2 separate regions of the Homo sapiens genome follow, and region 2 is linked to region 1. Evidence: fine-mapped expression QTL. A gene starts in region 1. The other region holds a variant in brackets. All regions are shown on one strand. Distances are between the middles of the regions. Region 1 holds the start of WNT10A (Wnt family member 10A). Region 2 overlaps CDK5R2 (cyclin dependent kinase 5 regulatory subunit 2).

Region 1 (2,500 bases):
ATGGGGTGGAGTGGGTACGTGTTTTGGGGGGACCAGGAGAGCCCCATCTAACAACACACACTCTGTCCCAACGGCCATAATCACTCCCTCTTCCAACCTCTGCTTCTGAAGGTTGGGCCCATCAGTACACTCCTACACATTCCTCTCTCCTTGACCTCCTCACAATCATCCTGCCCAGTGCAACTCACTCAGCTAGCTGCACACCCACACAGGTAAGCGTGCAAATGCACACACATCCACCATGCTTGTGGCCACAGTATTTCCTATGCACATCCCCAGGAATAGATGCCCATACACACAGGGTTCCCCACAAGCCCACTCCCACAGATATGTTTCAGTCACATTCACATAGACACACTTCTGCACACATTGTGGTGGACACACAAACCCAACCCCAGCACACTTACGCACATGCACACTTCATCAGACATAGTTACAGACACACACACAAAGACACTCCCATTTACACATGTGTTCATCTTAACATACATTGACCCATGAGCTCTCACATGCACACATGGGCACACATACAAACTACTGTTTACCAACACAGTTTGCTGGGATCCTGGGCTCGATTGAAAACACACACACACACACACACACACACACAGCTCTTGCAGCTGCAGTCTCTCACTGACCCCACCTGGGCTACCCCCTTCCAGCCTCCCAACCCCTGCCCCTACCTGGGGCTGAGCTGCAGGAAGGAGTGAGGCAGCTTGTGCTTACTCCTGAGGTGGGGGTGCATTCCCCCAACAGGGCAGGAACTCCAGACTGGCACTTGCTCCCCCCCCACACACACCTCCCCTCCTAGTTGCCATCATGCTCCTGGGCACTGCCTTGTCTCCCTGGACTGCCCATATCCTGTCACCAGTCCAACCCCCTCCTATGAGGGAGCTCACTGCCTTTGGTTGGGCACCAGCACTTTCCTATGACCCTGTCCCTCCCTTCTTCCAGGGTCCTCTACCCCAGCAAGAGCATCAGAGGCCCCTGCAGGCCGGGGTCCCAACTCTCTAGGAGGGCGGAGCATGAGGTGAGGGCTCACCTGGGCATGGCAGCAGCCAGCAGCAGTAGGAAGAACAGGAGCACCCAGAGCGCTGGCCGCGGCTGGGGCTGGGGTCGGAGCCGCAGCCAGGGGCGAGGGTGGGCGCTGCCCATGGCGCGCAGGCCCTGACGGGCTGGGAGTGGGGGGCTCACAGCCCAGTGGGACTGGAGAGCCAGGGGCGCCGGCGCATGATCGGCGGGGGGTCGGGGCGGCTGCGACACACAGCTCCGACTCGGGTCAGGGCTCCCGGAGCAGACGGCGCCCGCCTCCCCGCTCCATGGGGCAGCACCCCCGGGCACCGCCCTCGGGGGGGGCGGGGGGTGAAGAGCGGGCGAACCGGGCACCTCCTGGCACAGGGGTCCGGGGAATTTCCCGAGGCCCCCCCGCGACAACTCCCGGTGCCTCTCAAGGGTAAGGGGGGCCCGGAGGTGCAGCGGGCTGGGGACGGGAGGCTGGGGTGCCGGGGAACCCTCCAGCGCAGCGCCGGGAGCCTGCGCTTCCGAGGGCGTGCGAGGCTGGCTGGCGGGGGCGGCGCTGTCTGTGTCGGGCCCCACTGCCTGTAGAGTAAGTGACTGTCCCGGCTCGGGGAGCTCTGCCGCCTTCCCTTTCCTCCCCCCACCCCCCCGCCATTTAGTGTCTCAGGGCTCTACCCCACGTGACGTCACGCGGCGGGGCGTGGAGGCGTGTACGAGTCCCGAGGCCACTGCGTCCGCTGGGGACTGGGGGTGGGAGCGTCCCTGCTGAGGGCAACAGAGGGAAAGGTGTTGGGGTCTGTGCGCGCGTGCACAGGAAGATGCCTGTGTGTGGAGCGCGCTGGGTTGTGTGGGGGATATGTGTTACCGCGAGGTGTGTGTGCCTGGCAGAGACGCAGCTGCTGGGGAGCGCCCCCATCCCACCCCAACACACACACCTGCAGGGGCTGGAGGGGAGGGGCTGGCCTCTGTGTTTCGCCTCCTCCGCCAGAGGAGGGACTTCCCCCAGGCCTGCCTGGTGTGAGGCAGGTGTGGGCTCCTGCAGAGGAGTTTGGCAGCCTCTGGTTTCTTCTCCCCTTTGCTGTGTGACCTTAAACAGGTGCCTCCTGCTCCTGCTCACGGAGACCTCCTCTGCCCCTTTGCGGAATGCGGCTCATGGGGACCACCTTGTCTCCTCAGTGAGCCCGGGGAGGCAGCAGTGTCAGGCCCCCAGAAAATGCTTGCGTAGGAGCGCCCGGGGTGGCACGTCCTGGGAGGAGGCGTTAGAGAGACTTTTAACCCTAGAAGTGGCCGTTGAGATAGTTTATTTAGCTCCCCTTTATTTCACAAGAAAATATCGAGGCTCAAAGAGGTCACACAGCAAATTAGCGGAAGAGCGAGAACCGAACGCAGCTCTCCTGACTCCCAGCGCAGCAGCTGCCTCCCCAACACTGAGTGTTGCCTGCCTGTGCCCGCAGATACTCTCAGTCTTGTCCTGGCCCTCCCT
Region 2 (3,004 bases), 81 kb before region 1:
GTGATCCTCCCTCCCTCCTCCCAAACCAAGAGAGATGACGGCACCGCGCTGACTGCGCCAAATTCCAGCCAATGGGCGGCTGCTCCCGCCTTCCCTTCCGCCAGCTCTCCCCCTCCCTCCGGGAACTCAATTCACAAATCTGGACTGGGGATTTCCGGCTCCAGGCAGGTTACAAGGGCGCTGGGCTGAGGCCAGGGGAATCGAGTCCTGTCGTCCCGGGAGGGCAAGTGGGGACCGACATTTTTGGGTTCTGGAGCCAGACTTCTATAACTCGCCGCCAGAATAGATGACACCCTATTCCCAAATTATCCGGAAGACCTAGTTGAGGCCGAGTCTGCAACTCTTCCTGCCCTTACAAGCCCCGACCCCGCCCGAGCGCGCCATTCAGCACCACGGACAGCGAACCCGGGCCTCGTCTTGGCAGGTCCCCCCGGGTTCTTTCCGGATCTTCTCGGCCACGGCCAGACTAGGGTCGGAGCCGCGGGCACTCTGTTGAAGCCAGGCCTCTTTGGGCCAATGAAACAGTGAACAGGGCGCTTAGCCACGTGGCTAAGAAGGCAATGGGGACCGAGCAGGGATCTCAGGCTAAATAGCGCATTTTCCTTCCTGTTTCAATCCCAGAGAATGGCTTCCTTCTCCCCAACTGCCCTTGTTTGCCCCTTCTTGGGGATAAAGGGCAAGGGTCTGAGTCTCAAGCAGGGATGGACCCCCCAAGACTCCTGAGTGGGCGTGCGACCTGGGCATCGTCGAAGCAGCCCCATGGTGGTTGGGGGATGAGGAGAGAAGTATGGCAGACAGGCCCCACTTGGGAGTGGTGAACACAGACTTAGGCCCGACTGTACTCTTGACCGATATATGGTGGGGAGAGATGGGGAGGAAGGGAAAAATAGCAATAAGGACTAGCTAGTTCTGCCTCAATGGGTCTCATCACAGAAAGGGCACAACTCCGCTGTCCCCATGATTCGGTCTCTAAGTGGCCCGGGCATTAATGAGGAGCTAGGTCAGACAAGATGGAGGCGGAAGTGGGGGGATGGATTCAGCTTTATCACCAGGCCTCACCCTCAGCTGCCTCGCTTTACTCTTTACTCTCTGTAAAATGGAAGCCGATGGCGGGGGTGGGGATGGGGAGGAGGAGAAGTTCTCAGGTACTTGATCTCCCCTACTAGAGCCCCATCTCTTGCCTTTCTGCTCTGTCTGTGACAGTTCCATTACCACTCCCACTCCCTCCCTCCCGGGGCCCAAAGAAAGACCGGCGCAAAACCATCTGCAGGCGCTTCCAGCGCTTTATAGTTCTTTCCGGGACAGACGGACAGACAGACAGTGCGGCCCGCTCTGTCGGCCCGCATCATTGGCACCTTGGACACGGCCCCAGGCCCAACTCAGTCCCTGGTACCCTACCGGGAGGATTCCGGTCCCGCCCCAGCTCAGCACCTCGGACAGTTCCCGGCCCAGCCTACCCCCCTCCCCCCTCCCTCCGCAAACAACCAAATAAATTAAAAGGGGCAGTGGGGAGGAGCAACAAAAAAGCTAAGGATAAGGAAGCGGGATGTCCCTCCTCCAAGGTAAGAAG[T/C]TTTCTTTTCCTCCCACCTGTCCACTGAGGCGCCGCGGCCGGGGTGGTCTCCCAGGTTGATTTTGCCTCCAAACCTCAGCCTCCTGAAAGAAGCCGGCAGCCCCTTCCCCCACACCCCCCAGCTCCCAGCATGCAACACGTTGGAAAAGGTGGGGAGAGGCGGTGGGGGTGGGGCGAGGGACCATCCTGGTGGCTGTCTGGATACCTGGGACTGCAGTTTCTCCTGGCACCTCAGTCGATCCAAATTAAAAACTAATATTCCCTTTGATCAGGGGAGAGGGGTGTGGTGACTCAGTCAGGAATAAAAAAATGCAAGCTGACACAAGTGGAGGAAGAAGGCAGACAGGAGGGAAGATGGTGACACATGACAGGAGCAACAAGAAGGGCAGATGGGGACACAGGTGCAGGAGGAGAAACAGGGGTCTACGGGGTACAGTCAGGCAAGGGGTAAGATGGAGATGCAGACACACAAACCCAAGGAACGGAAAATGGAAAGGCAGGGAGAGGGAGGAAGAAAGAGAGGAACAGGAGAGAGAGGGAGAGAGAGAGAGAGGAATGCAGACAGGAGGAAAAATGAAGACACAAAAAGGAGGCAAGGAAATGGATAAAACCGAGGGGGAATGGGCTGAAGGGAAGGGGGAGACCCCGGCAGAAATGGAGAAATGGGGGCGCAGACAGACGGGAAGAGTGAGGTTGGAGTGCCTTTCCCGCGCTCATCTTCCGTCCCCACTCCACGCCCAGCAAATCCAAACACCGCGGCCTCTGGTGTCCCGGTCTCCACTTTCCCCTGAGGGGCATGGGCGTCTCCTCCTCCGCCCAGCCGGGGCGCTGAGCGGCGGTAACAGCGGCGGTGGCTTTGTGGTCCCGGGGGGTCCGAGTGTGTGTCAGGGGCTGGGGCGGGGGATGGGCGCGGCCCCTGGGTATCCCTAGCGGTCCAGGTTCATAGTCCAGTGCTTGGTTCCGGCCGCGCAGCTGTCCCTGGCGGCCGAGGAGGCGGCGGGCGCGCCCCCGCTCGGTGGGCCCCCGCCGCTGGCGGCGGCCTCGCCCTCGTTCTTGAGGTCTTGAAAGACCTGCGTGAAGAAGTGGGGGTCGGCGTTGAGCCGCAGCATCTGCGGGCTGAGCCGCTGGATGAGGCGCAGGCAGCGCTGCCAGAAGCGCTCCTTGTCGGGCTCCACGAGGAAGGGCTTGAGTGGGTAGGAGATCTCGTTGCCCATGTAGGAGTAGGCGAGGTAGAGGCAGGTGAGGAAGGCGGCCTGCAGCTCGGCGGCCGACGCCAGCTCGTCCCCACGCAGCGACTCGCGGCACAGCAGGTACACGAACACCAGGTTTGCAGGCGTAATGAAGGCCTGGTCTTGCCAGCCCTGCAGCAGCAGCGAGCGGTCCACACCGCGGAACCAGCCCACCAGCTCGCCCGGGCTCAGCTCCTTGAGGCGA

Evidence for each region.
Region 2: its variant is fine-mapped to the expression of WNT10A in whole blood (INTERVAL, PIP above 0.99).

The regions. Positions count from the first base shown.
Region 1 is chr2:218,879,651-218,882,150 of GRCh38, reverse strand. WNT10A (Wnt family member 10A) reads right to left here and starts at 1,299. Exons shown (of 4, transcript NM_025216.3): 1 at 1,043-1,299. The coding sequence starts at 1,155. RefSeq lists silencers at 1,224-1,363, 1,384-1,593, 1,814-1,873.
Region 2 is chr2:218,960,417-218,963,420 of GRCh38, reverse strand. It overlaps CDK5R2 (cyclin dependent kinase 5 regulatory subunit 2), which reads right to left. Exons shown (of 1, transcript NM_003936.5): 1 at 1,266-3,004. The coding sequence ends at 2,497. Among named protein-coding and RNA genes, the nearest start is that of CDK5R2, 2.3 kb to the right of the region's middle. RefSeq lists an enhancer at 1-107. The variant T/C (reference allele first, on the strand shown) is at 1,571.